4 linked regions of the Homo sapiens genome follow. The protein of the gene in region 2 interacts with the protein of the main gene of each other region in a biochemical or structural test. Each region holds a gene or a part of one and is shown on either strand. Other genes may lie near its edges.

What was found.
Region 1: the proteins of GNGT1 (region 2) and PDCL form a complex in vitro, tested with the Homo sapiens proteins (one study listed by BioGRID).
Region 3: the proteins of GNGT1 (region 2) and GNB4 form a complex in vitro, tested with the Homo sapiens proteins (one study listed by BioGRID).
Region 4: the proteins of GNGT1 (region 2) and SMO are reported together in a solved structure, tested with the Homo sapiens proteins (one study listed by BioGRID).

What each region holds. Positions count from the first base shown.
Region 1 is NC_000009.12:122,825,589-122,832,769, reverse strand, and holds the start of PDCL (phosducin-like protein), read left to right. Parts: upstream 1-4,181; 5' UTR 4,182-4,299; intron 4,300-5,977; 5' UTR 5,978-5,982; coding exon 5,983-6,154; intron 6,155-7,181. UniProt on the Homo sapiens protein: Acts as a positive regulator of hedgehog signaling and regulates ciliary function.
Region 2 is NC_000007.14:93,902,216-93,909,583, forward strand, and holds the start of GNGT1 (guanine nucleotide-binding protein G(T) subunit gamma-T1 precursor), read left to right. Parts: upstream 1-4,351; 5' UTR 4,352-4,429; intron 4,430-4,520; 5' UTR 4,521-4,531; coding exon 4,532-4,627; intron 4,628-7,368. UniProt on the Homo sapiens protein: Guanine nucleotide-binding proteins (G proteins) are involved as a modulator or transducer in various transmembrane signaling systems.
Region 3 is NC_000003.12:179,441,462-179,448,485, reverse strand, and holds part of GNB4 (guanine nucleotide-binding protein subunit beta-4), read left to right. Parts: intron 1-7,024. UniProt on the Homo sapiens protein: Guanine nucleotide-binding proteins (G proteins) are involved as a modulator or transducer in various transmembrane signaling systems.
Region 4 is NC_000007.14:129,183,771-129,191,646, reverse strand, and holds the start of SMO (protein smoothened precursor), read right to left. Parts: upstream 3,015-7,876; 5' UTR 2,496-3,014; coding exon 2,165-2,495; intron 1-2,164. UniProt on the Homo sapiens protein: G protein-coupled receptor which associates with the patched protein (PTCH) to transduce hedgehog protein signaling. Binding of sonic hedgehog (SHH) to its receptor patched prevents inhibition of smoothened (SMO) by patched.

The sequences.
Region 1 (7,181 bases), on a different chromosome or scaffold from region 2:
CCAAGGTGGGCGGATCATGTGGTCAGGGGTTCGACACCAGCCTGACCAACATGGTGAAACCCTGTCTCTACTAAAAATACAAAAATTAGCCGGGTGTGGTGGCGCGTGCCTGTAATCAGGAGCGTGTGCTACTCAGGAGGCTGAGGCAGGAGAATTGTTTGAAACTGTGAGGCGGAGGTTGCAGTGAGCCGAGATCGCACCACTACACTCCAGCCTGGGTGACAGAGCGAGACTCTGTCTCAAAAAAGAAAAAAAAAAGGTTGTTTAATCTGATTTTTAAATAAGAAAGACATTCTGTTGCAACAGATGGAACACCCTGCCATACACACACCACCACCACCACCAGAGAAGGAAAGTTAAGGTGAGAGAGAAAGAAAGAGAAACAAGGGAGGGGAAAGGACAAAAGGAGAGGGAGCAGAAAAGGCACAAGGGAAGAGAAAGGAAGGGAAGGAAAAGAAAAATAAAAGAATTCAGGAAATGAAGAAAAAGAAAGAAAAGACAAGACAGATGGGCAAGCTGTTTATCTCAAACAGTCCTCATATGGTTTGGTGTCATTCAAAATCATCTCTGGACCTTTAATTCTTATAGAAAAAATAAAGTAACAGGACAAATTTGTTCTAAATTTACAAAAATATTGGTAGAAAAAATCTAACATGAGAAACTCATTGTAAGACCAAATCTTGTTTTGCCTCTGTTATGATTTGGAAAAACTGTAAGAGTGGATCAAGTCTTGGAACTCATGCTTCAAGGAATTTAATCATTTATTTTATTTATTTATCTAGCTATTTATTTATTTATTTTTTTGTGGAGATGGAGTCTCATTCTGTCTCCCAGGCTGGAGTGCAGTGGCATGATCTCAGCTCACTGCAACCTCCTTCTACCGGGTTCAGGTGATTCTCCTGCCTCAGCCTCCCAAGTAGCTGGGATTACAGTAGGCATGCTCCACTCAGCCCGGCTAATTTTTGTATCTTTAGTAGAGATGGGGTTTCACCATGTCGGCCAGGCTGGTCTTGAACTCCTGGCCTAAAATGATCTGCCTGCCTCAGCCTCCCAAAATGGTGGGATTACAGGCATAAGCCATCGTGCCCGGCCTATTTAATCACTTATATATGAATTTCATTCAGTTACTTCAAAATTTTAAATATTTTTAAAAATAGCCTATAAATCTGGTTGGATCAAGGTTTCCCTTGCTTAAAGATAAATGCTTTAGCCGTCACAAGACAGCTCATGGGTTGTTTTCCCCACTAGGGAATACCTTTAATATACTCTACTGATAAACAGCCCAACAAAAACCTTACAGTAGCGGTAAAATACCTTTAAAACTATAAATTACATACAGTATGCTCATTAAACAGAAACTTCATTATCCACATCATTCCACATTTCTTTTTTTTTTTTTTGAGACGGAGTCTCACTCTGTTGCCAGGCTGGAGTACAGTGGCATAATCTCAGCTCACTGCAACCTCCACCTCCTGGGTTCAAGCGATTCTCCTGCCTTAGCCTCCCCAGTAGCTGAGACTACAGGCGTGCGCCACCATGCCCAGCTAATTTTTGTATTTTTAGTAGAGACGGGGTTTCACCATATTGGCCAGGATGGTCTTGATCTCTTGACCTCGTGATCTGCCCACCTCGGCCTCCCAAAGTGCTGGGATTACAGGTGTGAGCCACCATGCCTGGCCCATTCCACATTTCTAACAGGAAAAATGAGTGGTTCTGTTGGATATTATTAGATAGCTAACTCATGTACACATATTCCTGACAGATGCAAGCTACATTCCCAACAAAGACATCACTATATCTATACAACCAGGAGACTGAATATATTAAAAGGTCTGAATTTGAGACCAACGTGGGCAACATAGCAAGACCCCATTTCTACTTTTTTTAAAAAAGGTTGAATATGGCCGGGCGCGGTGGCTCACGCCTGTAATCCCAGCACTTTGGGAGGCCGAGGCGGGTGTATCACGAGGTCAGGAGATCGAGACCATCCTGGCTAACACGGTGAAACCCCGTCTCTACTAAAAAATACAAAAATTAGCCGGGCGTGGTGGCGGGAGCCTGTAACCTGGGAGGCGGAGATTGCAGTGAGCCGAGAATTGCGCCACTGCACTCCAGCCTTGGCAACAGAGTAAGACTCCGTCTTAAATAAATAAATAAATAAATAAACCAGTGTCGGGCAGTTCTTTATAGCAGTATGAACTGCCTGACACTGGGTTATTTATTTACAGCAGTATGAAAACGGACTTATTAATACAGTATTCTTGAATGGGTGTGTGTTTGTGTGTGGTATTTTTTGACTCCTCTGAGGGCCTCAGCAAACAGCCTCTCTGAAAACAGGCAGGTACAGAAATTTGCAGACAATTTCAGGTGGTCCTAGAACCACAAATTAAGATCCCCTACCCCAAATTAAGAGCCCTATTTTAAACAGTGTATCTTTCTAGAATATTTTCTATGATTCAATTTACCCAAAGCTTTCTATGAGCAACTTCACGGTTGTGTATTGGATACTTCAACAAGGGCTCAGAATTTGAAATCATTTTAGGTTTTAAAAAAGTTGCAAAAACAGACGACAAAGTATGCCTGAGGAAAAAGAAAAAAAAGTTGCAAAATATCATAGTATGGCTTTACCCTGGAAGAAGAAAACAAAGTTGCAAAAATAGGATAGTGCTTCCCTAGATTCTTCATCTAATAGAATCTCCAAAAGTTCACATCTTACATAGTATAATTATTAAAACTATTGATACAATACTACTAATATGAATTAATAGGCCTTATTCAAATTTCGTCAGTTGTCCCATTCATGTCCTTTTTATTTTTCTTTTTTGAGACGGAGTCTCAGTCTTGACCCCCAAGCTGGAGTGCAGTGGTGCGATCTCAGCTGTCTGCAACCTCCGCCTCCCGGGTTCAAGCGATTCTCCTGCCTCAGCCTCCGAGTAGCTGGGATTACAAGTGTGCACCACCATGCCCGGCTAATTTTTGTATTTTTAGTAAAGACGGGGTTTCGCCATGTTGGCCAGGCTGGTCTCGAACTCCTGACCTCAGGTGATCTGCCCGCCTCGGCCTCCCAAAGTGCTGGGATTACAGGAGTGAACCACCGCACCCGGCCCCATGTCCTTTTTCTATACCAGGAGCCAATTCCGGATTTCACATTACATTCCTGCTCTGTCACCCAGGCTGGCCTCCAAGTCCTGGGCTGAGCGATCCTCCCGCCTCAGCCTCCTGCGTAGCTGGGACTACAGGCGCGCGCCACCACTCCTGGCTGCCGCTTCTTTAAAATGGTGAAACCCCGTCTCTACTAAAAATAGAAAAAATTAGCCGGGTCTGCTGGCGGACGCCTGTAATCCCAGCTACTCTGGAGGCTGAGGCAGGAGAATCTCTTGAACCCGGGAGGCGGAGGTTGCAGTGAGCCGAGATCGCGTCACTGCACTCCAGCCTGGGCAAGAAGAGCGAAACTCCGTCAAAAAAATATATATATATATTTTAATCTATGCCCTGTACTTGAGGGATTTGTGCTCTCGGGCAAATTACCGAACGTCTCTGAGTCACTTTTCCGTCTAATAGACGTGATGCGATGAAGAACCAATAAAAAACACACTTTGAATGGCTTCGGAAACTTCGAAGGGAAGTGAATACATTTTTCTTTTCTTTCTTTCTTTTTTTTTGAGACAGTCTCGCTCTGTCGCCCAGGCTGGGGTGCAGTGGCGCGATCTCGGCCCACTTCAACTTCTGCCTCCTGGGTTTAAGCGATTCTCCTGCCTCAGCCTCCCGAGTAGCTTGGATTACAGGCGTCGGCCACCAGGCCCGGCTAATTTCTGTATTTTTAGTAGAGACGGGTTTTCAACGTGTTGGCCAGGCTGGTCTTGAACTCATGACCTTAAGTGATCCGCCCGCCTCGGCCTCCTAAAGTGCTGGCATTACAGGCGTGAGCCACCGCGCCCGGCCTGTGAATACATTTTTCTTATTGCTTGACGCTGGGTCATACAATTCACTTTTTTGTTGTGCAGATTAAAACCAAAACAAAGCAATTAGGAGAGCGTTGTTGTCGAGGTGTTTTGTTCCAAGGTAGGACCCGTAGCTTCTCCCCTGCCCCTCAGCTGGGAGTAGCGGCTTCTGATTGGACAATGCGCGTCCGCCACGACGCAGGAAGGCCGCCTCATTGGTCCGCGCTGTCGGGCTTCGGCGGCTTTTCTCTTTAGCGCTCAGGGCGCTGACCCACTGCTCTTCCTCTTAAGAAAGTGCTCCATTCCTTCCGGCGCCCGGAGCTGCTGGCCCAAAGGGATCCGGAGCGAGCTAGGGCAGGTAACTGCATTGGGGTCCACCGGGAAGCGGCAGCAGCTGCGGACTACGGGAGGGAGTGGGGTTGGCGAGCTTGGGTAAAACTGCCCCTTCTTCGCTCTGTCTCGACCCCCAAGTTCTCCGCGTCTTCCTCGTCCCCTTTCCTCCTCTGGCCCCACCTCCCCCGGGCCCTTCCAGCCTTCCCCCAAAAGCTCCACACACCCCTCTGCTTCCCGTCCGGGGGCCCCGCCTCCTCTGCTCGCGTCTCCAGGGGGCCCGCCCTCGTCTCCTCCCCGCAGCGGTCCCTCCTTTAGGAGCGCAACTCCTTCCCTCCCCTCCGCCGCTGCTGTGTCCCCCGCTTGGCCCATTCCTGGGCCTTAAGTTTGGTTTTGTTCCTTCTTGGCACCTCCACCTGTCTCTCCATGATCCCTGTCTCCTTTGCATCTGACTGCTGGAGTCCTCCGATTCTCCCGTTGACCCAGGCTGCGAGTTTAGCAAATTGTGCAGCGGCATTGTGCTGGGCTTTGGGGATAGAGGTAGTGACTAGAGGTCCCTACGTTCAAGAACTCCTTGCCCGGTGGGAGAGAGTCACTTTGTAAATGGAGTATGATAGGCCCGGTGATAAGTCTTTAAGGCAGCCGCATTCCTGCTGAATTCTCAAGCAGGCCTCTGGGGGCTAAGCTGCATCTTTTCATCAGAATGCCCTTGGCTACTTCTGATGCAGAAGCCTGGTCCTTTATATTTTTAGTTTTTATTTTTTTTTGAAACAGAGTCTCGCTCTGTCTCCCAGGCTGGAGTGCAGTGGCGTGATCTTGGCTCACTGCAACCTCCGCCTCCCGGATTCAAGAGATTCTCGTGCCTCAGCCTCCTGAGTAGCTGGGAAAACAGACACCCGCCACCACACCTGGCTAATTTTTGTTTGTTTGTTTGTTTGCTTTTACTAGTAGAGACAAGAGTTTCGCCATGTTAGCCAGGCTGGTCTCGAATACCTGGTCTCAAGTGATCCTCCCTCCTCGGCCTCCCTAAGTGCTGGGATTACCTGCGCGAGCCCGGCCATCATAGTCCTTTAAACCCTTGGGAGTTATTAAAATCTTTGTATGGGCCCTTCTTTTAAACTGTCAGAATAGGTAGCGTTTCAGAGACCATCCATCCAAGCCCTCAGGGTGTTGTCTGGGAAGTTGAAGGCTGGTGACAGAGAGTGATTGCCTAGACAAATAGTGACTCAGCATTGTACTCTTGATGCCTCTTTTTGGGGTTTTTCCTGAGGATACTTAAACAATTTTTCAATTAGGCAGCAGTCTTAGCTGGTGGGAAAACTAAAAGCACAGATAAAACCACTAGTCAGTAGATTCCTCCAAGCCAGTGCAGGTGGCTTGTACACTTAACTCAGACTAGAGTAATTTATACCTCAGGCTCTTGGAGTCAGGAATCCCTGGGGTCTGGTCCCAGCTCCGTCATTCGCTGTTAAGCTTGGTGAAGACTCTTCCTTTATCTGAGCTTCAGTTTTACCTTCTGTTAAAGAGTGTGATAAGCCCTAACACACAGGGTAACGGTAGGGATTTGTTAAGATTTTGGTTATGAAAATAATCACTTTAGTGTCCTGGAAATTGTAGGATCTCAGCACAGGCGAGCCCCCTATGCTTCAGATTCATGTCTGTCTGGCTCAAATCAGCAAAGAACCTGATATGCTTTCTTTTTCCAGACACCATGACCACCCTTGATGATAAGTTGCTGGGGGAGAAACTGCAGTACTACTATAGCAGCAGTGAGGATGAGGACAGTGACCACGAGGACAAGGACCGAGGCAGATGTGCCCCAGCCAGCAGTTCTGTGCCTGCAGAGGCTGAGCTGGCAGGCGAAGGCATCTCAGTTAACACAGGTACTGAGAAACCCTGGGCTCTGGGAACAGGCTTAAAAAATGTACATTAAATACATATTAATTAAATACATATTAATAAATTAATTCTCCTGATCACTTTTAACTCTGGTCCCACTTTCAGAGGTAACCTAGTCTTTTCATTATGTGTGCTTCTAGCCTTTTAGTGCACAATACAAATGTATGTGCATAGCAGCATGGTAATGAACACAGACTGGCCTGGATTTGAATCCTGCATCTCGTATTAACAGTTTGATATCTCATAAATCACAAGTATGAGTATATGGGTAGTGCAAATTCCTAAAAATGGCATATTTACACTTGTACATTTTAATATTGTCAAATTGCTGTCAGTTGAGTTGAGGTGGCAGTAGTTTATAGTTTAATCAGCAATCTGTGTTTCTCCGTACACTTGACCTCCTACTGTGTTATGAAACTCCTTGATCTTTGCTATTGTAGTAATTCATTGTAGGTTTATTTCCGCCCCCACCACCTTTTTTTTGTTTTGTTTTGTTTTTTTGTTTTTTAAGACAAGTTCTCACCTTGTTGCTCAGGCTGGAGTGCCTTGGTGCCATAATGGCTCACTGCAGCCTCAACTTCCTGAGCTCAAATGATCCTTCTGCCTCAGCTTCCATGAGGTTCCTCTCTTAAAAAGCTGGGACCACGTGTAGCTGGGACCACAGGCGCTTGCCACCGTGCCCAGCTAATTTATTTCTTTATTTTTTGTAGAGATGGGGTCTCACTTTGTTGCCCAGGCTGGCCTCACACTGCTGGCCTCAAGCGATCATCTGCCTCAGCGTCCCATAGGCATGAACCAATGCACTGGGCCCATATTTATTTTTAAGAGGGAACCTAAACTTCTTTTCATAATTTTAAGAGAGATTTTTATATCCTTTGCTCATTTAAAAAATTAGGTGTTTTTTTTCTTCTTGGGGAGCTATAAAGGAAATTAATCTGTGATATGAGTGGTAAATATTTCTTTCAGTTTGTTGTTGTCTTTTGACTTTATATTCTTTTGTTCTTTTCCTGG
Region 2 (7,368 bases):
AGGTAGCATCCAGCACAGGAGAAAGATGTAGGCTGGGAAGCTAAGCCAGTCTAGCCTTTTCACCTTCTTCTGCCTGCTTTTTAATCTGCCTGCACTGGCAGCTGACTAGATTGTGCCCGCCCAGATTAAAGATGGGTCTGCCTTTTTCAGCCCACTGACTCAAGTGTTAATCTCCTTTGGCAACACCCTCACAGACACACTCAGGATCAATACTTTGCATCCTTCAATCCAATCAAGTTGACATTCAGTATTAGCCATCACAGTACCTAAATTATATTTATAAAATACAAAAAATCAGCAAATTATATAGACTAAATACAATATGAAAATATTCACCATGACTATACATAATGAAATAGATTTATGTATAGAATTACCACGGACATAGCAGCCGAGAATAGATACACATATATCAAGCCCATGCCTACATAGAGTGATATGATTTTCTGAAAGAGAAACAAAAATTATTGGTTAATGGTCTTCCTTTTATTTATATGCATTATTGTAAAAAGTGTATATAATAACCAAGAAAAATATTTTGTTTCTATGTAAAATGAAGTGAGTTTCAAGGTTCAAAGAACTATAAATATGGCTTTTGCATATGTGGAAGCCTGGCATATCTGACAGTCATGCTGAATGTGTCACATTTCATCTTATGCTGCAGGATCCCAGAAAATGCAAGATATCTGACATTCCTTATCCATACCCACAAAAATTATGGAATACTGTTATAAACAAGCTGACATATTTTCATGAGGGCCCCTAGGGGGCAGTATTGCCCCCATTGAGAACCAGGGATCTATGGATGGGATACAACTCAGAAATACTTCCCCCACTCCCACCCTCCTCCTGCCTTTTATTGGACCTTAGATACTCTGATGGTAGTGCAGGATGGAGGAAGAAGTGAAAGGGCAAACATCTCCTTAACTAGGGTATGCTTTCCCCCAGGCTGGCTGTAATAGCAGTCTTAGCTTGTTTGTCTATAGATCTTCACTCTTCCCCTTAAATTTTGACTAAAGTTGGGGTGGGGATGTTTGGCAATAGGGATAATAATCTGACCTAGTCTCTTAGGACTTTTTTGTGGAGAAGTGGACCAACCTGAAAGCTTAGAATATGAGGGGCAGCTTTAGTGCTATTTGTCATCAACTCCGGACTTTCTATGTAATTCTGGGGTATGAAGAAAGAAATCCACTCCTTTACACTAGTTTGAGAGAGACGTGCTGGAATGAAAAACACCTCAGTTCAGACATGCTGGAATGAAAAACAAACACCTGTATTGTAACCTCAGCTCCACTGCCTCTCATTGTTTAATTTAGGGCATTCAAACTCCCTGGAATGCCTTTGCCTCATCTGCAAAATGGAATAGGGAGTAAAGTAGATGATATTAAATTTGAATTATTTGAACCATTGACTTCAATATAACACTAAACATTTGGAATCTCCATGCAGACAATATTCACTGTTCTTCTTTGTGTCCTTGAAATAAGTGAAAATTTTGGTCCTCTTTTTTTCTCATATAAGACCTGTGCCATCAAATTTGGTAAGAATTCTAGAATCTTCTAATAATATGTTTGCCCTAAATAAAGTGTTTTAAATGTTTAATATTATTGAGCATGGTGAATCACAGCATTTTAGAGTTAAGAAATCATTTATTGATAAAATGAAGTTAGAAAAATTGGATGTTTTTCTATGTTTAGGTAAATGCATATGACATAGGTTAGGTGACTTTGTCAATACTTCCTGATCTCTTCTATATACCAAACAATATACAGAACAATAGAAAGTAATGAGGACGTAAAAGTCATGCAAGGTATGATCTCCCTTGTAAAGGCTCTAAAAATTCACTGTGTCTTCGGTTGGGTTTGCTAGAAGCAAAGCCTAAGACAGGAATTATTGGGTAAGAAAGTTTTCCAGGGCAAGCTCTCAGGAGAAACTGCTAGAGGAGTAAGGCTAGGGCAAGAGGAGAAGTTAGTCAAAAGTGGTTTCAGAAGTCTAGCATCATTCTAAACCCATGGAAAGGCTCTGGAAGTTTCTCAGTTACAACAAAGTTTTTCAGCCCAGAAGCAAGGGGGCTGGGCTGATAGGACCCCACATTAGCCAGCCTTTTGCTCCAAGTCAACCTCAGGGGTCAGATGGGAGCATAATCTCCCAGGCATCATCAGGAAAAGTGTTGCCCATCAGACAAGAGCCAACCTGAGCAAAAGGTTTGCCCTTGACAGTCAACACCTGCAGCTGCTGCGGACTAGGTATCTTACCCTGGAAAAAAAGGAGAGCTGGGCAGTAACATCTGGAATGCATGATATTAAAGGAGTCAAATTATGTACGCATGATCTCCTTTAAGTGTATCAGTAATATCACCTATCTTCTTTAGAGCACCTATAAGATCACATACATTATATGGCAAGGGCCATATAAGAAAGTACAGTTTGAAATTCTGGAAGCACAACAAAGTGAATAACACCAGCTAACACGTGCAAGTGCTTGCTATGTACTACACGCCATTACAAAGTCCTTACCTATGTTACCCCCATTTAATACTCTCAACAAATCTACAGGGTAGGTAATATTATTGCCCCTATTTCCCTGTAAACTAAGGCACAGGCAGGTCAAGTAATTTGGTCAGTGTCACATGGCTAGCAAGTACCAGTAAACGATTATTTTGTTGGTAAGTATATGAGAGGGCTTCCTGGAATAGAGAAAATGAAATTCTAAACCCAACACAAGATCTACTAAATTAGAATCTCTAAGGTTGGACTCATAACTTTAACGAGTTTCCTAAAGTGATTTCTGCACACACTGGAGTGTGAAGAGCCATTACCTAAAGGAATTAAAAGTTTTCCAAAATGAAGAAAAATTGTGCAAAGAACAATGTCAAAAGGTAAAAATGATCATCAAAAATACTTAATGAAGTTTTATATTTAGTCTAAAAGACTGGGAAGGAAGATGAGAATAAAATTTGGGTTCCCAAATGCAAAACAGGCTTATACAGGAAGAAATAACCTTTGTATAGTCATAGTGTTTCTTAAAGAACAGAATAGCAAAAATAAAAACATAGGACACATTGGGCTCAAGTACCCACAGTGTGTTATTTTCTACCTCTATGTTGGCCTATGTAGACATTTGTCCCTTAAAATTATCTTAAACTTGAGACCATCCTGGCCAACACGGTGAAACTCCACCTCTACTAAAAATAAAAAAATTAGCTGGGCGTGGTGGCATGCACCTGTGGTCCCAGCTACTCAGGAGGCTGAGGCAGAAGAATCGCTAGAACCCAGGAGGCGGAGGTTGCAGTGAGCTGAGATCGCGCCACTTCAGTCCAGCCTGGAGACAGAGCGAAATTCCTACTCAAAAAAAAAAAAAAAAAAAAAAAAATTCTTAAACTACTACTTATCCGGAGAAAAACAAGGTATTTTAAGACTGGGAAGGGAAAGAATCTTCCTTCAATGGTTTTGGAAATGAAAACACCATTTAAATTCAAGGAAATAAGTTAATTGCTGATAGATTATTAGCAGAGTATTTTCATGTAGATGTAAAATGTTATTTTGTTCTCTGAAATAGTATGTGATCTATATACACTTACTTTTATAATAATACTTCATTACAAAAATTGGACTAGGGAGAAGGAGGAGACACTATAGGTACAATGCCATTTGGCTACACTGAAATCTTTCCCAGGCAATTTCATAGGACTATCACCAGCTATTGAGCCTTCTTCCCCATTACTCACTGGTCTAATTGGGGAGAAGAGGAATTGCAAAGAGGGCAGAAGAAAGAGTCTGTTCTAGTAGGAGGTTATTGGTAGATCAGACTTGCTATGTCCCCTTTAGCCTGCTAAATTTTCTCATCATTGTTACCAGATTCATTGTGACAGTTACAGGCAAATTTCATGTGTTGTTGGAAAAACGCTCACAAGTAATACGCTAGTTTATTTCTGATTAATAAGACTGTTTACTATATTTCCATTCTACGGGTACACATTTAAACAATCCATTATTTATAATGAAATTATAGTGATACTTTTTATATGGTTCCCTTTTAATACCAGGTTAAATACTCTAGAGATTTAGGGAATTAATGGACCGTCATCCAAATGACCTCAAATTAAGTTAAATGACATAAAACATAGGTGGAGGGTTTTGGAATTGAAAGTAAGGATTGGAAACCCCAAATTTTACACTATACAAAAGACCAGGGGCAAGGAGGCGCTTTAAGTATTTTAGATTATATACTGACAAAACTCACCCCTCCCAACAAACCTGCTGAACAGGTGTTTGGAGTCAAATGCTTGACTTAATCATATTAGTGAAGATTAGGAAGAAGCTTTAAAATCCCAAGGCTAGTGTGCATTGCTAGAATTGTTAAGAGAGAGAGCTCATATGAAATTGGTTATCGTGGGATATTTAAAATAAAACAAAGAACAGTTTACTTTGTAAGTTAAGAGCTGAGGGAATTGTTGGCTAAGACTGACTTGAAATAACTCCAGCAATTCATGCATAGCTGCTAACCTTCTACATCTTCAGCAGGCAAAAAGATGCCAGTAATCAATATTGAGGACCTGACAGAAAAGGACAAATTGAAGATGGAAGTTGACCAGCTCAAGAAAGAAGTGACACTGGAAAGAATGCTAGTAAGTTGCTGCTTTCTTTAGTATTTTATTTTAAGCTAGAGATACTGTGGGAGTACCAGGTTAGAAAACATTGGCTGGAAAGGCTCAATGTAGTTACAAATAAATTGTTCATCTAAAAATTTATCAAAGATTAAGAAAATTGATAATCAATCATAACTATCTCTTGATTTAGATTCTAAATCAAGGAGGTTGGCAAACCATTTTCCTCTGGCCAAGCCCAATCCTTAGCCTCTTTTTGTATGACCACAAAGATAAGAATGCTTTTTCATTTTTAAAGAGAAGGGAAGAAAGAAAGAAAGAGAGAAAGAAGAGAGAGAGAAAGAAAGGGAAAAAGAAGGAAAGAAAGAAATAAAAGAGAAAGAAAAGAAAAAGAGAAAAAGGAGAATATGAGACAAAAACCATATTTTAGATAAGCAATAAAATAAATATACGCATGCAATAATATAGGCATTTTGTTTTTACTTTTCTAAACTTCTTTTTATAATGCAATATTTTGATATTGATATTTTGATACAATGTTTTGATATTGCTGCAATACTTTAAGCTATGATGTCAACCCCTCTCCACTGTCATGGTCAGTAATACATAAGTACATTCTACTCTTCTTTGGCAAATAAAGATGAGTTCAAACATAAGAACTCACTGGTTCCTCCTACAAACTTCTGACAAATCTTGGAAAGGGTTACCAACAGTTCACTGCCATTAGAAGGAGAAGAAATGGCAAAGGAATAAACCACCAAACAAACAGTGATGAAAGCTTGGAGAATGTAGATATGTATTTTAGATCACTTCATTTTAGGAAAGTTATTAACAGTAGAACAAAACCTCCACAAGTGGTAACAGCAATCTCATAATTTTAAAACATCTCATTTTATCAGGACAAAGTAAAAAAGGATCTTGTGTTATCTTCATACTTTGTTCAAAATGCCTGCTCCCAGTCAAAACTGGGATTTTGGGCTTCGTCTATGTTTATAATAATCTCAAACTCCCCTGTTGCCCTTTCCATACAGGCAAAACGTTTTGCTGTAAAGATAAAATTAAATCATTACTAAGGCTTAGAACATACACCAGACAAGTTAAAGTCCTTATTTTTACAATTCAGGGTAAATAAAATGAACTTTTAGGATAAAGAAAAGTTTTCTCTTCTTAAGTTGAAATATCCAAAAGCTGTTTTATTATTTATGTACTCAGGATTATTGTTTTGTAGGCAAGGTGATTGTCTTCGTGTTTATTATTCACTTGTGGTAAGTTCACCTTGGACTTTTTATTTTGGGTAAACATCGCATACATCATCATTAATCAGGCTTTGGGGTTCCTTTTCCCCATTATTCAATGTCTCTCTGCTCTTGGAAGTCAAACCAATTTAATATCAGACTGCAAAAACTCCATATACATACACACACAAACACACATGCATATAGATACACATACATATACATGTACCCTCTTAGTCTCCTCAGGGTGCTGTACCAGAGTATCATAGACTGGTGACTTTTAACCAACAGAAATGTATTTCTCACAGCTCTGGAAGCTGGGGCATCCAAGATCAAGACATCAGCAGATTCAGCGTCTGGCGAGGGCCTGCTCCCTCCTTCATGAACACCTGTCTTTTCATTTTGTCCTCACCTGGTGATAGGGATGACGAAGCTCTCTGGGGTCTCTTTTATAAGGACGGTAATCCTATTTATGAGAACTCTGTCTTCATGACCTAATTACCTACCAAAAACCCCACCGAGGGAGTTAGGAGTTCAACAAATGAATTTATATAGTGTGTAGAAATATGTATGTAATATATAGAAATATTATTTCTCTATAAAATATATAATAATATGTTATATTATATATAAAATGGAACTTCCAGGTCCTGAGCCCCTAGCTCTGATGTATAATCAGTACAGTATGGTTAAGTGGATATACTCAGTATGGGTAAGTGGTTAAGTGGATAATCAGTACAGTATGGTTAATTGGATATACTCTGAAACCATATTCCCAGCTCAGATTCTTGCTCCACAACAAATTTTTGCCTGTGCAACCCTCATCTATGTTATCTAACTCACCTGTGCCTCTGTTTCTTCAAAATAGCGATAGTAATAGCATTTAATTCAGAGGATAATTGGGAGGAATAAACAAGATAATATACACAAAGCTCTGAGAACAATGCCTGGTAATAGCAAGTGCTTTATGTCATTATATTATTATTATCTTAAAATTATTATTGATTCTATGAACCAGACTGATTCATATTATTGTGATTTTTTTTGAGTACGACAAGTCTTTGCATCCAGTTTCTGAAGCTGATAGATTTGCAATGACTATAAGTCAATGTAATAGGCCATGACTAAAGACAACCTTTGTAGTAATAGCTAAAAATAGTTACTATTTGATTGTGCATCTTCTTGTGCCAGGCACCTCTTAGGCATTTAAGGCAACCAATGCAGCTATTCATATTTTATACATGAAGTAAATGAACCTTAGATGAATTACCTTAACTAAGACTAAATAGCTAGTAAATGAGAAGAGTCTTGCAATCCTATGTTAAACTACATATATTTATATTAAGCATCACTGAAATAATTTTTAAACCTATACACATATATAATTTTAGGTAATTTGTTGCTCCTTTCATTCTCATATCCTCAGATCCCAGCCAGGCACCTTCAAAACCAATCCCTTATGGACTACTGAATTAAGGACAGCAAGTTACACCTCTGTTCCTGTCATCTGGGTGAAGCCAAAAGTAG
Region 3 (7,024 bases), on a different chromosome or scaffold from region 2:
AAAAAAAAAAACCAAGTAAGTTTTGAGCACAGGATTAAAGATTAAAGAACTGAAAAAATAATCTTGAACTCTGTGTAGTAGGCTATTATTTGTATGGTAGAGGTGTAGCAATTCTGAAACTATTTTGTGTGCATTATAGGATTGAGCAAATGAGTAAATTCATTGATATTTTGGGAACTAGGGTTTCCAACGTGGAAGAAGAGAAATGAAAACATGAAACAGGCCAGGCGCGGTGGCTCACACCTGTAATCCCAGCACTGGGAGAAATGAAAAGTTAAAAATAAAACTTCAAACAATAACAATGCAGCTTTGCTTCAAAAAGAAAATCTTTGAAGGGACTCCATGTAGGCTGTCTCTACTCCTTATCTGCCATCTTCTTCTGAACCCGCTTCAGAGACACATTATCCCTCCTACTCCATGAAACAATTCTTCTCCAGGTCACCAGGGATGTCAGTCTTGCCAAACTGGATCTTCAGCCACATTTGACACAGGCAACAGATAACTCCTTCCCTATCAAAATGTCGTTTCCCCTTGGCTTCTGGGACACCGCTCTTTCTGATTTTCATCCTGCCTCATTGGCTACAGTTTCTCATTCTTCTCCATCTCAGTCAATGGTACCACCATCCACCAGTTGCTGAGGCTAAAAATTCTAATTCCCCATTTCACTCATTCTAAATCTATTCCTTCAACAGCAAGTATTATGGGCTCTACCTTCAAAATCACTGCAGATTGGACCATCTTTTTTAAAAAGTTAATTTGACCATTCCTATCACCTGCACTGCCACCACCACCACCCTGGTGTCAAACTGTATTCTTCCCTGGCCTGGATGACTGCAGGAGCCCCCCAACTGGTTTGTCAGCTTCCACTCTCTGTCTCCCACCAGCCAGCATGAACTTTAAAAGAGGTAAATCAAAGCAGGTTATATCTCAGTCGTCAGAACCCATTATTGTTAGATAAAATAAAAACGTTTTAGCCAGGCGTGGTGGTGCATATCTGTGGTCTCAGCTACATGGGAGTCTGAGGCGGGAGGATTGCTTGAGTCCAGGAGGTCAAAGTTGCAGTGAGCCATGTTTGTGCCTGGGCAATAGAGTGAGACCCCATCTGAAAAAAAATCAGGATTTTTTTTTTTTTTTTTTTTAATACCATGATCAAGAGACGGTGACTGGGCTCTGGCACACCCTTCTAGTCTCATCTGCTGCTCTCTGCCCTGCTCACTCTCTTCCAGCCTCGCCATCGTCACTGCTGTAGGTCCAGCATGTCAGGTTAGTTTCTGCCTGGGCCTTTGCTTGCTGTTCTGCCTGTAATGCTTTCTCCCAATGAAGACATAGCTCATCCTCTCATTTCATTCAGTCCTTACTTAATTTATTTGAAAATAGCCTTCCTCGTCACCCTCTAACCTCTTGAAGTTCTTGCAGTTTTTTTCTTGCATACGACTTATCTGTACTTAAAATTATGTTATTGATGTGCTGTATTATTTATCTCCTAGACAGATACAGAACAAAGCACTGTGGCAATAGGAAGTTTTGTTTTGTTTACTACCGAATCTCTAGAGCCTAGAATATGTTTGGCACATGGTCGGGACTCAGATATTTGTTGAATGAAGGAATGAATGCATGAATTAATATTTGTTGTATCTTAGCTAATGCCGTTTCAAATGGAGAAGACGGTTTCCAGAGAATCTTACAGCGTTAGTGCTACGTAAGGTGTTTGGTGATGCTGCTACAGCTTCTCTGAAAGCTAACAAGTTACCAACTTTGAGTGTTTTCACGTTATCACCTTTCTTTTGTATGCCCTCTGGTGGAGTGATGATAATAAGCGGCAAGTGAGTAGAATAGGTCAAGAAGAAACTAAAATACAAGAACCTAGATCACAAACTGGATAATTAACTTAAAAAAAATAGATTTGAAAATTTTAACTTTAGTTAAGCCTCCTGAATAATTACAATACGATTAGAAAGAATGAAAAGAAAATGAGCCACAGATTTGAAGAGAGATCTGGCTTAGGATGAAAAAATAACCTATTGAGCACACCCAAAATGTTTGGATCTCTTAAAAGAATTCCTGCTTAAATATACTTCTGTCCCTTGAAGTATTTTAATATTTTTCCATCTTTAGTTCAAAGACCTCTTTCTCTCAACTGTAGTAATAATTTCAGTGAACCTTTATTGACTACCATGTGTCGGTTAACGTACACAAGTGGTGAAGCCAGTGTTCAAACTCCAGCAGTGGAGGACCAGAGTCAGTGCCCTAAATCTTCATGCTTCACTACCACCTTTGTGCCAAGGTCGTGTGGATGGTACAGGGACCGGAGAATTTCCTTTGGAGCAATAGTTATGGACAGAAAAATGCTTGGTAAGTTCACAGTGTGTGTTCCTCAGTTCCATTTTCCAGTATGTTTATAGAGAGCCTTTTCTTCCAGAATTGCTGAAAGATGTGTTATTTTATCTTTTTTGAAATAGAAATCACATGAAATGTTTCTACACTCAGATGCTACTGACTTGCTGAAATAATATAAAGTTTCTCTTAGTGTCTATATTTCATATTTATGGCAGTAACAGCTTAATTGTTCCTCCACTTTTGGCTTTAGCAGGGTTTGTTCATATACTGTGTAGTTATTACAAAAGAAATGTAGTATACCTTACTGGGTAAGGACAAACTCCCACTGAGATGCTTGTCTTACTTGCAGTAGGAACCCTCTAAAAAAGAATTCGCTCAGAAGATATCATTATTCTTAGTATCTCTGCAAGTCAGAGCGCTGTCTTCTTAATAGCTGCATAATATTTCACTGTATGAATGCATCATAACTACTCTCCTATTTATATTTTTAATTTGTTGTCATATATACAATTGGTTAATGAATATCCTTAAACATTAATTCTTACCTATTATGCAAAAGTGTTGGCCAGTTGCAGTGGCTCATGCCTGTAATCCCAGTACTTTGGGAGGCTGAGGCAGGCAGATTGCTTGAGCCTAGGAGTTTAAGACCAGCCTGGGCAACATGGTGAAACCCCATCTCTACAAAAAAATACAAAAATTAGCCAAGCGTGGTGGTGTACGCCTGTAGTTCCAGCTACTCGGAAGGCTAGGGTAGGAAGATTGATTGAGCGCAAGAGGCAGAGGTTGCAGTGAACTATGATCATGCCACTGCACTCCAGCCTGGGTGACAGAGGAGACCCTGTCTTAAAAAAAGAAAGAAAGGAAAAAAAAGTATAAAGTACTCTTTTTAGAGGCCTTACTGTTTCTACTCTCTTACTTTTAGCTTGTCATGAATTTTCAGCTGTGGAGAAATTAATGAAATCTACTTTCTCTATGGAACAGATTCTATCAATTTCTCTATAGCTGAAGAAAGAGAGAATACTACTTTGGGAGGGACAAGATGAGGACAATGGCCTCTATGCTCAAAGAACTAATAATTGCTAGGCTCTTATATAGGATTTTTAATTTTTTTTTTTAATGGCAACACTTAGCAATGGCTTGACTCATTTTTTTTCTCCTTATTTTTATATTCAGTTTTTCAACTAAACACCTTTACCCAGAGATTGTTTAAAATATGAAAATTTGTCATTAACTACTTGGTAAGTGAAATTAAAAACCCAGTAAGGCAGCTTAAGCTGAATGAGGTTTTATGTCTAATTGGCATGTGACGTAAATTATATACATTATGTTTAGGATAGTTAAAAAGGCTTACCGTGGCTAGTTTTTATAAGGAAATAATTTAAGACATTCTAGAATTCTGCAAATTAAATTATATATGTATGCATGTATATACTTTTTGAGACAGAGTCTCTCTCTGTCACACAGACTGGAGTGCAGTGGTACGATCATGGCTTACTACAGCCTTGACTTCCCAGGCTCAAGCAATCCTCACATCTCAGCCTCTTAAGTATCTGGGACTATAGGTGCATGCCACCGTGCCGATGAAACTGTGTATTTAAATGGAACATGGTAGGCAGTTAAGTACTTGAGGAAATTGAAATTTGTCAACAAGGGATCTTAGTTATCTGTATTACGTATTAAAAGGGCTCTAGGGAAGCGGTTGAGAGGTTAAAAAAAAAAAAAAAACACCCTGAAAAATGTGATCTCCTTGCCGTGTGGTCTAAAAAACAAAAAACTTAGTAATTAAAAATTTTAAACTTAGATATTAGTTTTCATGGTTTGTGTTAACCTTACTATGGGAATTAAAATTTATGAACAGGAGATTTCATTTGGTTCATTAATTATTGAATATATCACCAGGGAAACTCTTTGGGGGGAAAAAAATGAAAAAACCACAGACTCCTCCTGGCTGTAAGACATAAAGAAAATAGAGATAGGTTAGTATGTAAATTTCATTCATGTTTATGTGTTGACTCACCTTTTAATGCAAAAAAATCTTTGCAAAGGTTTTAGAAATGATGAGACAGATTATGAGAGGATGCTGAAGAATCGGGGGGATTGTGTGTTCCCTTAAGGCATTGAAGAGCAGTCTTGGTATATGTGATAGAGAGTGTTGTAGGATAAAAACGTGAATAGGAAAATCAGCAGTAGAACAAAACTAAATGGGACTAAATGTAACTAAAAATGAATATTCTATTCGAACTGCATGGTAGAGATAAGACCCTTTGAATGATAGATTCCGAGAACATTAGTGGTGGGGTAGAGAATTGGGGATGGGATAGAATCCCAAATAACTTCAGTTATTAATTAGCTGCTAATCTAAACCTGAGACAGTAATTGTATAGTATTTTTGTAAATGAAGTGTCATCCTGAGGTAGCAGAGATGGATATCTGCTCATCTCAGAACAGTATCACCATAAGTACACTTGCTTGTTAACTAAAACCTCTAAAATTTTATCTTATAGGTAGGCATTATGGCTTTGTTAAGAAAAATGAAATCTACAGTGAAAGACACTGGATGCTGTATTCTATTTCTACTTATTGGTAACTTTAAGATATTTTACCTGTTTTTTTGAGACGTCTCACTCAGTCACCCAGGCTGGAGTACAGTGGTGAGATCTCGGCTCACTGCAACCTCTTTCTCCCAGGCTCAAAAGATTCTCATGCCTCAGCCTCGCAAGTAGCTGGCATTACAGGCATGCACCACCACACCTGGCTAATTTTTGTATTTTTAGTAGAGATGGGGTTTCACCATGTTGGCCAGGCTGGTCTCGAACTCCTGACCTCAGGTGATCCAACTGCCTCAGCCTCTCAAAGTGCTGGGATTACAGGCATGAGCCACTGTGCCCAGCCATAAGATATTTTACTTTTATTAAAGCTGTGAACATAAGAAATTGTAGCTACTTTTCCGTGACTATGGTAATTGCACATGTTAACATTTTGTCCTATGAAGCGGAGTTAGCAAATAAGCTAGATGGTAATGCTTGTGAGGCACTCATAAACATTTGTTGGATGAAATTCTGATATCCCCAGTTGTCATATTCTAACCCTTTAATGGTGGGATTGATTTTTAAAATTTTTGTATGTAACCAAAAATAATATATAACCAAGTCTGGTAAATTTAAAGGGTTGTTTCTGGTAAAACAAAAGCAAGTTATGTGACTTTAAGTGATACAAAACTGCCGGGTATGGTGGATCACACCTTTCATCCCAGCTACTCAGGAGGCTGAGATGGGAAGACAGTCTGAGCTCAGGATGTCAAGACAGGCCTAGGCAACATAGTAAGGACCCCACCTCTAAAATTTTTTTTTTTTAATTAGCTTGGCATGGTGGTGCATACCTGTAGTTCCAGCAACTTGGTAGGCTGAGGTCGGAGATCGTTTGAGCCACTGGGTTCAAGGCTGCAGTGGTGAGCAAGGATGGCAGTGCCACTGTGCTTTAACCTGGGCGACAGAACAAGACCCCATCTCTTAAAAAAAAAAGTGACATAGGACTGTGGCTTGGTAACACAGAGATAACTACATGTGGTCGTATAAAAAAAAATCCAAGAGATAATAATGCTTGAGTGGGTCATGTAAGAAAAGACAGGCTAAGTGTATGATTTTAAATTTACATAATCATAATTTATGTTTCTAATGTTTAGTTCACAAAATCTTAGAGTACTAAAACCAAGAGGCTCCTCTTAGAGAAGGTAGTTTTAGGACTAAGTAAAAGGAAATGCCCTGCTATTTTACAGAGCTGACGTAAATTGACAGAACTTGTTACTTTTAAGAAGTAGTACAGGTGAAAATATAAGCATACTAAAAATGGGTTCAATGAATTCATGGACAATAGTTTCAAAACGTATTGTGTAAAATTTAAGAGAAATCCTTAGTATGTTGAGTTCAGCCACATTCTCATAAACATTTGGTTTCAATGACGTAATACTTTAAATACAAGTTCTGTCATAGCATTTACACTGTAATATGATTATAGTGATGAGCCCCATAACGATATTTCAGTCGGCCGGGCTTGGTGGCTCACGCCTGTAATCCCAGCACTTTGGGAGGCCGAGACATGTGGATCACCTGAGGTCAGGAGTTTGAGATCAGCCTGACCAACATGGTGAAACCCTGTCTTTACTAAAATACAAAAATTAGCCAGGCGTGGTGGCGGGCACCTGTAATCTCAGCTACTCGGAAGGCTGAGGCAGGAGAATTGCTTGAACCCAGGAGGCGGAGTTTGCAGTGAGCCGAGATCGTGTGCCACTGCACTCCAGCCTGGGCAACAAGAGTGAAACTCCGTCTCAAAAAAATGATGTTTCAGTCAGTGAGTTGACTGTATATAGGGTGATGGTCCCAATTTTTTTTTTTTTTTTTGAGATGGAGTCTCACTCTATCACCCAGTCTGGAGTGCAGTAGTGTGATTTTGGCTCACTGCAACCTCTGCCTCCCGGGTTCAAACGATTCTCCTGCCTCAGTCTCCCAAGTAGCTGGGATTACAGGCGCCGGCCACCCAGCCTGGCTAATTTTTGTTTGTTTGTTTGTTTTTGTATTTTTAGTAAACACAGGGTTTCACCATGTTGGCCAGGCTGGTCTTGAACTCCTGACCTCAGGTGGTCCACCTGCCTTGGCCTCCAAAATTGCTAGAATTACAGGCATGAGCCACC
Region 4 (7,876 bases), about 35 Mb from region 2:
ATCACTTGCCAGAGGCTACCAGCTGACCTGGCTGTGATTCTCACACGAGGCTTGGGTTCACTCTACCTACTCATTACCCAGCTCAAGCCAACACCTGCTTCTGCCCTACTTGCAAGTCCCAAGCAGAAAGAGTGCAACCAGAACACATATGGAAACAGGAATGAGCTGAGGGATGGTGGTTGGTGGCAGAGAAGAACTCATAGTGAACTAATGGAACTAACGGTGCTGGGCTCAGTGCTGGCATCTCTGTAGGACCCTGCCCTGCCAAAAGGCACAGATAGTGAGATTTCAACCTGCACAACCTGCAGATGGTACTAATTGATACATGTTCCAGCTTAAACTACTTCTGTCTGCTCAGCAGCTGCTCTCAAGAGTATGGGCTGGAAAGAGGTTCATACCCTTCCTCCTTGATCTGATGGTAACTACACAGAGGCAACATCAAACATGCATTTAACTTGGGAAAATTAAACCATGGGTCCTTGCACAATCAATAAAGAGAGGGACAGAAAGATTATCCTCTGACAGCATGAGCAACTCAGAACTGGGTGAGATTCTAGTGCTGAGAGATTTGGACTTTCCACACAGCTGGCTCCTAAACTCAAGTCTCATTTTGGGTGGTGCTCAAAGCAATCTTGCTTAATCTCACTTTGGTGTTCTTTTTATTATTATTATTATTATTTCAGTCTTTTGCATGAATGTAACTTTAAAATTACAATTATTTTATCTTCTATGTATACCCATTCTTATATATGAGTATACATGTAACACATGTATGCAAACATCGTAAAAGAAGTGTATATGCAAAACCACATCCACCTTACACTATGGTAATCTGCAGAGTTTTCAAAGCCACTGTTGTTTACACATGATTTCTGTCTAATGTGCTGTGCTGACTTTAGAACCTGATCCCCAAAAAGGATGCAGCTCTTCCTCATGGGTACCATGGATACCATCCTCCAAGTTCCTCCTCCAGCATCTGCACCAAGCCAGGAACCTTATGGCCTTGTCCAACATCTGACAAAGGCCGAGAACTTGTCAATGACAGGCGGCCTACATACACTCCCTACATTAGGGTCCTCACCAGCCCCCTGGGCAGAGCTAAGAGATGGGGTACCCCAGCCCTGTCAAAAGAGGGAGGCTCCCAGTTCTGCTCCTGGCTCCTGGTTTTCTTTTCTTTTTCCCAGGACAGTTTTAGAATCATACTGGCTAGAAGCGAGGGCTGATAAGGCCAGCTCCCTTCCTCAGCACCCTCCAAGCCTCATCTAGAAAAGTGACAGGTGGGGGAGAGTATACTCCACACTGCTAAGGAAGGACATTTGGGTTCAGTGTGCAGTTTTTCAGACTCTGCCACTCCAGTGAGGGGGCTTTGGGACTTCAAACCACCATGGAAGTGTCCACAGGCTCTCAACACTCCAGACTTAAGCGTCCTTCCACAGCCCTGACCAGCCTCGGTAACCAAATTTCCAAAGAAAACACAAATAACTGTTAGAAAGGTCTTATTCCTTCATAACCTCCTGCATGCGTCAGAGGGCCGGTTTTTCAGATGCACAAACTGAATGAAATCTCCCGTGAAAGCCAGACAAGATCACAGTTCTCTAGGCTTCATTCCTGTCTCCCAAATCAAGATTTCCAGAACTTTCTGGTTACCTTTTAATAATTCATCACTAGGGAGGTTTCTTTTCCTTCAAAACTTCACTCGATCATGTCCCCCTACCCTTCCCTCCAAATGTCTAAACCTCTTCCTCCGTCATCCCTCCCCTTTTCCTCTCCAACTCCAATTTCCCCAGGGTCTTCAACACCTCCTTGAATCCCCCGGCACCCTGCTTCCAGAATAGGTGGAGCATCTCCTCTTCTTACAAAATGTCTTTTCCCGTGGCTTAGAGCCACCTCCTCACGGGCCCCTCATCCCCGCCATCCTTTGCTCACCCACCAGCTCAGGCCCTTTGTGACCCGCTTCGTCAACTTCCTTGCCCTCCTTTTCCCATGACCGAGGGTCCCATCCTGCACGTAACCTGCCCCCAAAGTTTCGGGATCTGTCCCTCCAACTCTCCCGGGTGCTGTCCCCGCCCTCTCCAAAACTCAGGCCTGAGCCTGTTCTTTCCAAGGGTGCCCCCATCTTACCGCGGCACCTCCCGCCCCCCAGACCCGGCTCCGCCGCACTTACCCGACCAGAGCACGAGCTTGCCGTGCGCTTCCTCCTGGGAGTCCGAGTCTCCGGCCAGCAGTGTGGAGGTGGCCCCGTAGGGCAGCACCGAGCCCAGGCACACGTTGTAGCGCAGCGGCTCGCAGGGGGCAGCCCGGCCGCAGTGGCTCAGCGGCGGCGGAGGGCCAGTCACCGCCGCGCTCCTCCTCGCGCTCCCGCCCGCGCTCCGAGGCCCAGGCCCGGTCGCGTTCCCGCTCGAGGCCGCCCCCCGGCCCGGGTCCCCCAGCAGCAGCAGCAGCAGCAGCCCCAGGAGCGGGAGCTCCGGCCCCCGCGCTGGGCGGGCAGCGGCCATGGCCAACCCCGCCAACTCAGCAAAAGCCCCGGCGCCCCCGCCTGCTCCTCGGAGCCCCCCGGCCACACGCACGACCTCGGCGGCCGCGGAGGCGGCTCAGGCGACCTGTGCGCCCAGAGAATCCGGGCCCGGGCCCCCCCGGACGCTCCGCGCGCCCCGGCCCCTCGGCGCCCAACTTCGCAAACTTTGGAACCCGGGGCCCATGTTGGGCTGCGGAGGCCCGGAACGGGATGCACGACTCCCCAAGCCCTAGCCTCGCAATCCAAGTTGTCTTCAGCCCTAGGAGACCCCTGGGCCCCCAATCCCCAGCCCCATTCCCTCTCCCACCATTAAAGCCACCTCCCCGCCCCGCGAGGGAGGCCAGACGCGGGCCGGGGGTGCGAGTGCAGCTCCGGCTCCGCCCCCGCGCCAGCCCGCGGCCCAGCAGCCACCTTCGCCCCAGCGCGCCGCAGCCCCCCGAACTCTCCCCGCCGGCGACCCGGCTCCTTTGTTGCTCTAGCTCGCTGGGCTCTCTGGAATGCACGGGCCTCGCGGAGCCAAGCCCGGCCCCCCTGCGCCGAGGCTGGGGGAGGGACTGGACGAAGGAGCGGAGAGGTGGGGAGGGGAGGCGAGAGAGGAAGAGCGCGAGCGTCAGCGTCCCTGGCGCCTGGAGGGGCCCGGGCTAGGGGGATCTGGTGACCCCGCCTGCCGCCGCCCCGCGCCCGGGGGAAAGAGATGAGTGGAAATCGTGGGCCGGACCTGCAAGGAGAGACTCGGCGGGCACCTTGCTTGGTCTGAGGTCGTCTGCAGGAAGCGGACTTTTCTCCTGGCTCAGGATGGGAAAGACAGGGGATGCCTGAAGTCAACGGGGACTTCTGTTCCATCTCTGCCCCGTTCTCCAGGCCCGCCAGTTTTTCCTGCTTTGGTTAGATTTTCCAACGTATCCCGGGGCCCCATGGAGAAGAACCTGGGTTTGGGGTTTGCGCTTCTCCAAATCCTTCCAGCTCGGGACCTTTGAGAGAGACGACCTCAGAGTCACTCACGGCAGCTGCTCTGGCTGCTGTTACCTGCGGGAACAGGTGTCTGGGAAATAAACTTGCCAACATCAAGCCTTTACTGCTACAAATATGTGAAGTCTGAACTGTGGTTCCCAGGGACTGGCCTTGGTTATGTGAGAAGGAAACCAGTCCTTCTTTGATGGCCCTGCTGCTCATCTGCTCTGGGAGGTTTCTGCTGCTCCTCTTCCCCACTCTGCTCATTTTGCCTTTCCTCACTCCTTTGAGCATCACACTTTTGGTCACCACACTTAATTTCCCACTTCAGCAGTTTACACCTGCACAACCAAGTATAACCCAGCATAACCACAAGGCTCCAAACAGGAGAGTAGACTTGCACTGAGCAACTTTTTCCTTGTTGCTGATCGGGCTGCACACCAGGGTGGGTTTTCCTTTCTTACCCCTGGAAGACTTGCTCATGGCCTAGCGGTAGTGGACTAGTTCTGTTACTTTGGACAGTTTAAGTGCATATTAGTTATTGCACTTCAACTATATCAATTGGAGAGAGAGAGAGAATTTAATTCAATTTAGCAAGTCTTTCTGAAATTCCAGCATGTACATAGCACAGAGACATCCTGGAGGAACCTGTAGACTTCCATTTTCCTGTGGATACATGGCTTGCTCTCAGGAAACATAGCATGACAGAACAGCAACGTTCCCTCCTTCAGGTCAGGGACCTTATCTCATTCTCTTAGTGTTCACAAAACATCTAGTTCACTTGAGCATACATAGTAATCACTTGATAAATAAGCTGCCAAAATGAGATGTACCGTGAGTATGCTATAGGAATAGGGGACAGAGGTCAGTGTGGATAGAAGTGGAGGAGGTGGGTTTTGAATCCAGGACTAAAGTGTGAGTAGGAGGAGTTAGAATAAGGACATAGATAAGTAGGGAAACTGATTGGTAAGAAGCCTCAAATAACACACAGAATTAAGGGTCAATTCTCTTGATAGTAAGGAAATCTCAAAGTTTTGACTAGGGGAATGATATTAATCTTTACTGGTTAATATTAGGTGATATGGTTTGGATCTGCATCCCCACCCAATCTCATGTTGAATTGTAATCCTCAGTGTTGGAGGTGAGGCCTGGTGGGAGGTAACTGGATCACGGAGGCAGTTTCTCATGAATGGTTTAGCACCATCCTCCTCGTGCTGCTCTCACGATAATGAGTGAGTTCTCACGAGGATTGTTTAAAGGGTTTGGCACCTCCCCGCTTCTTCCTCCTGCTCCTGCCATGTAAGATGTCTCGCTCCCCCTTTGCCTTCCACCATGATTAGAAGTTTCCTGAGGCTTCTCCAGGAGCAGAAGCTGCTATGATTCCTGTATAGCCTGCTGAACTGTGACCCAATTAAACTTCTTTTCTTTATAAATTACCCAGTCTGAGGTATTTTTTTTTTTTTTCAGACGGAGTCACGCTCTGTCGCCCAGGCTGGAGCACAGTGGTGTGATCTCAGAGCACAGCAGTGTGATCTCGGCTCACCTCAACCTCCACCTCCCAGGTTCAAATGATTATCCTGCCTCAGCCTCCTGAGTAGCTGGGATTACAGGCACATGCCACCACGCCAGGCTAATTTTTGTATTTTTAGTAGAGACGAGGTTTCACCATGTTGCCCCGGCTGGTCTCAAATTCCTGACCTCAAGTGATCCACCCACCTCAGCCTTCCAAAGTGCTGTGATTACAGGTGTGAGCCACTGCACCTGACCAGTCTCAGGTATTTCTTTATAGCAATGCGAGAACAGACTAATACATAAGGCAACATGAGGATGGCATGAAGTGCAAGAGGCTGGAGACAAGGGACCATTTTAAGGAAAGTCTCTGGTGACTTATGGAAGAAGTGAAACTAGACTATGTCATCAGGGCATAATATTCCTACTGGAAAAATAATTTGAAATGTTATGACCTACTTCAGTTATTTCTTTCTGTGACATAATAAAATGGCTGTTATAACATGTCTAAGTCCAAGCTGTAGAGAAAGCTGCCTTGGAGCCTGATAGCACACCCGATGCTTTGCTTTGTGAACTATCTGCACTTATTTTCTATTTGATTGTGTGTGTGTGTTGTTTTGTTTGTTTTTGCTTTTCTCTTTACCTTCCTGAGTGAGCAAGAGTAAAATATCTGGTTGTGGCAGTCTCGAAGCCCTGTGGGATTTTCCTAATATTTCATGTATTAGGGAAGAACTTACACATGTGCTCAGGCAGGCCCTTATTTCTCTACTCCAAATGTCAGTAGGTAATTCTTCAAGGATATAGGCTCTCCCATTTCTTGTGTGAGGTTTCTCAGGAAGTATGAGGAAGATTCGCATTGTGGGAATATAATACCTTCACATTGGAGATAGCAGAGGTAAATTGAGGCTATCCTAAGACACTATCTTCCAGCCAGAATGCTCTTCCCTTCTTGAGGGGAGAATATACCATAAGTTCTCAATTCTGTGTGTGTGTGTGTTTGTGTGTGTGTGTGTGTACACTCATGCACACATGTGCTCCTATTCATCAGACTTCAGTATTCCCTTGTGGGAATCCTGCTGGCCTAGCAAAGGGTAGCAGGAAGGCAGACTGAGAAAATGCTGCTAGTACTGTCCACAGCTATCAGGCCACGTTCCCATTAGTGACAGCTGCAGCGATGTGCTATCTCCTAGATATAGAAGGAAGTAGAAAGAGATTCAGGAATCCTGTCATTTGAGAGAAGGAAACTGTTCAGTGGGGACTGGGGAGAGGGAATTTCCCAGTCGTTCGTGAATGGTATTCAGGTTCCTGGAGAAAGTTCATGCATCCCCTCCTGTAGACATACAAGACTGCCAGTGTCTGTTAGACTACGCAGAGTGACTTGGCACACTCAGGTCTCCAGCCTGGTGGCAGGCTGCAAAGTGCTTCTCTCCCAAGCAAGCCTGAGCCACACCCCACCCAGTTCCTCAAGAGTCTTAGCCTCAACTGCATGTCCTAACACAATCCTTTTCTCAGGGATGAGAGGCTGTCCTGTGTTGACAATGCATTTCAGTACTTGATTTGTTACAAGTAGCTTCTTGATTTCTGAGTCATTCTCATAAAGTATTTTGGCATTTTGAGGTCACAAATTCAATGTTGACTGTCATTTGCCTGTGGGCCCTCCAGTCAAAGAGGGTTGATGTGAACGTATCCATGGGTATCACTGAGACCATGGCTGCCTCCTGTGGTTCAGTTGTTACACTGGCAAAATTCGGAACATAACTGTTGCAGTGCTCCAATTTTTTTTTTTTTTAGATGGAGTCTTGCTCTGTTGCCCAGGCTGGAGTGCAGTGGTGCGATCTCAACTCACTGCAAACTCCGCCTCCTGGGTTCAATCGATTCTCCTACCTCAGCCTCCGGAATAGCTGGGATTACAGACTTCTGCCACCATGCCCAGCTAATCTTTGTATTTTCAGTAGAGATGGGGTTTCACCATGTTGGCCAGGCTGCTCTCCAACTCCCGACCTCAGGTGATCTGCCCACCTCGGCCTCCCAAAGTGCTGGGATTACAGGTGTGAACCACCACACCCGGCTGTGCTCCAGTTCTTTCTTTTCCCAGTGCTTCCTATTTTGCAATTAAGAGCATTGAGTCAAAGGGAAAGGGCAAAATGGTAAAGGGGCCCAATAAGCAACCTCTTCAGAGAGACAGCACGATAGATTCAGAATTAAGAGCCCTGAGTTGGGCCTTACTAGCCATGCACCTTTGAGCAACTTATTCTGAGCCTCAATTTCTTCCCTCCCAAAAATGAGAAAATTATCCGTTGTGTTTCTATATACCAGTGATGAATAACCTGAAAGGGAAATTAAAACAGTAATACCATTTACAATAGCATCTAAAATAATTAAATACGGCTGGGTGCGGTGGCTTATGCCTGTAATCCCAGCACTTTGGAAGGCCAAGATGGGTGGATCACAAGGTCAGGAGTTCGAGACCAGCCTGACCAACATGGTGAAAGCCCGTCTCTACTAAAAATATAAAAATTAGCTGGGCGTGGTGGTGGGTGCCTATAATCCCAGCTACTTGGGAGGCTGAGGCAGGAGAATTGCTTGAACCCGGGAGCCGGATGTTGCAATGAGCTGAGATTGCGACACTGCACTCCAGCCTGGGCAACAGAGCGAGAGTCCGTCTCAGAAAAAAAAAAAAAGAATTAAATACTTGTGAATAAATCTAACCAAGGAGGTAAAAGACTCATATACTGAAAAGTACAAAATGTTGCTTACAGAAATTAAAGAAGTCCTAAATAAGTGAAAGGACATTTCGTATTCAAGGATAGGAAGATTTAACAGTGTTAGTCAATATAATTCAAATTGATCTACAGATTTAGCACAATCCTTATCAAAATTCCAACAGCCTCTTTTTCAGAA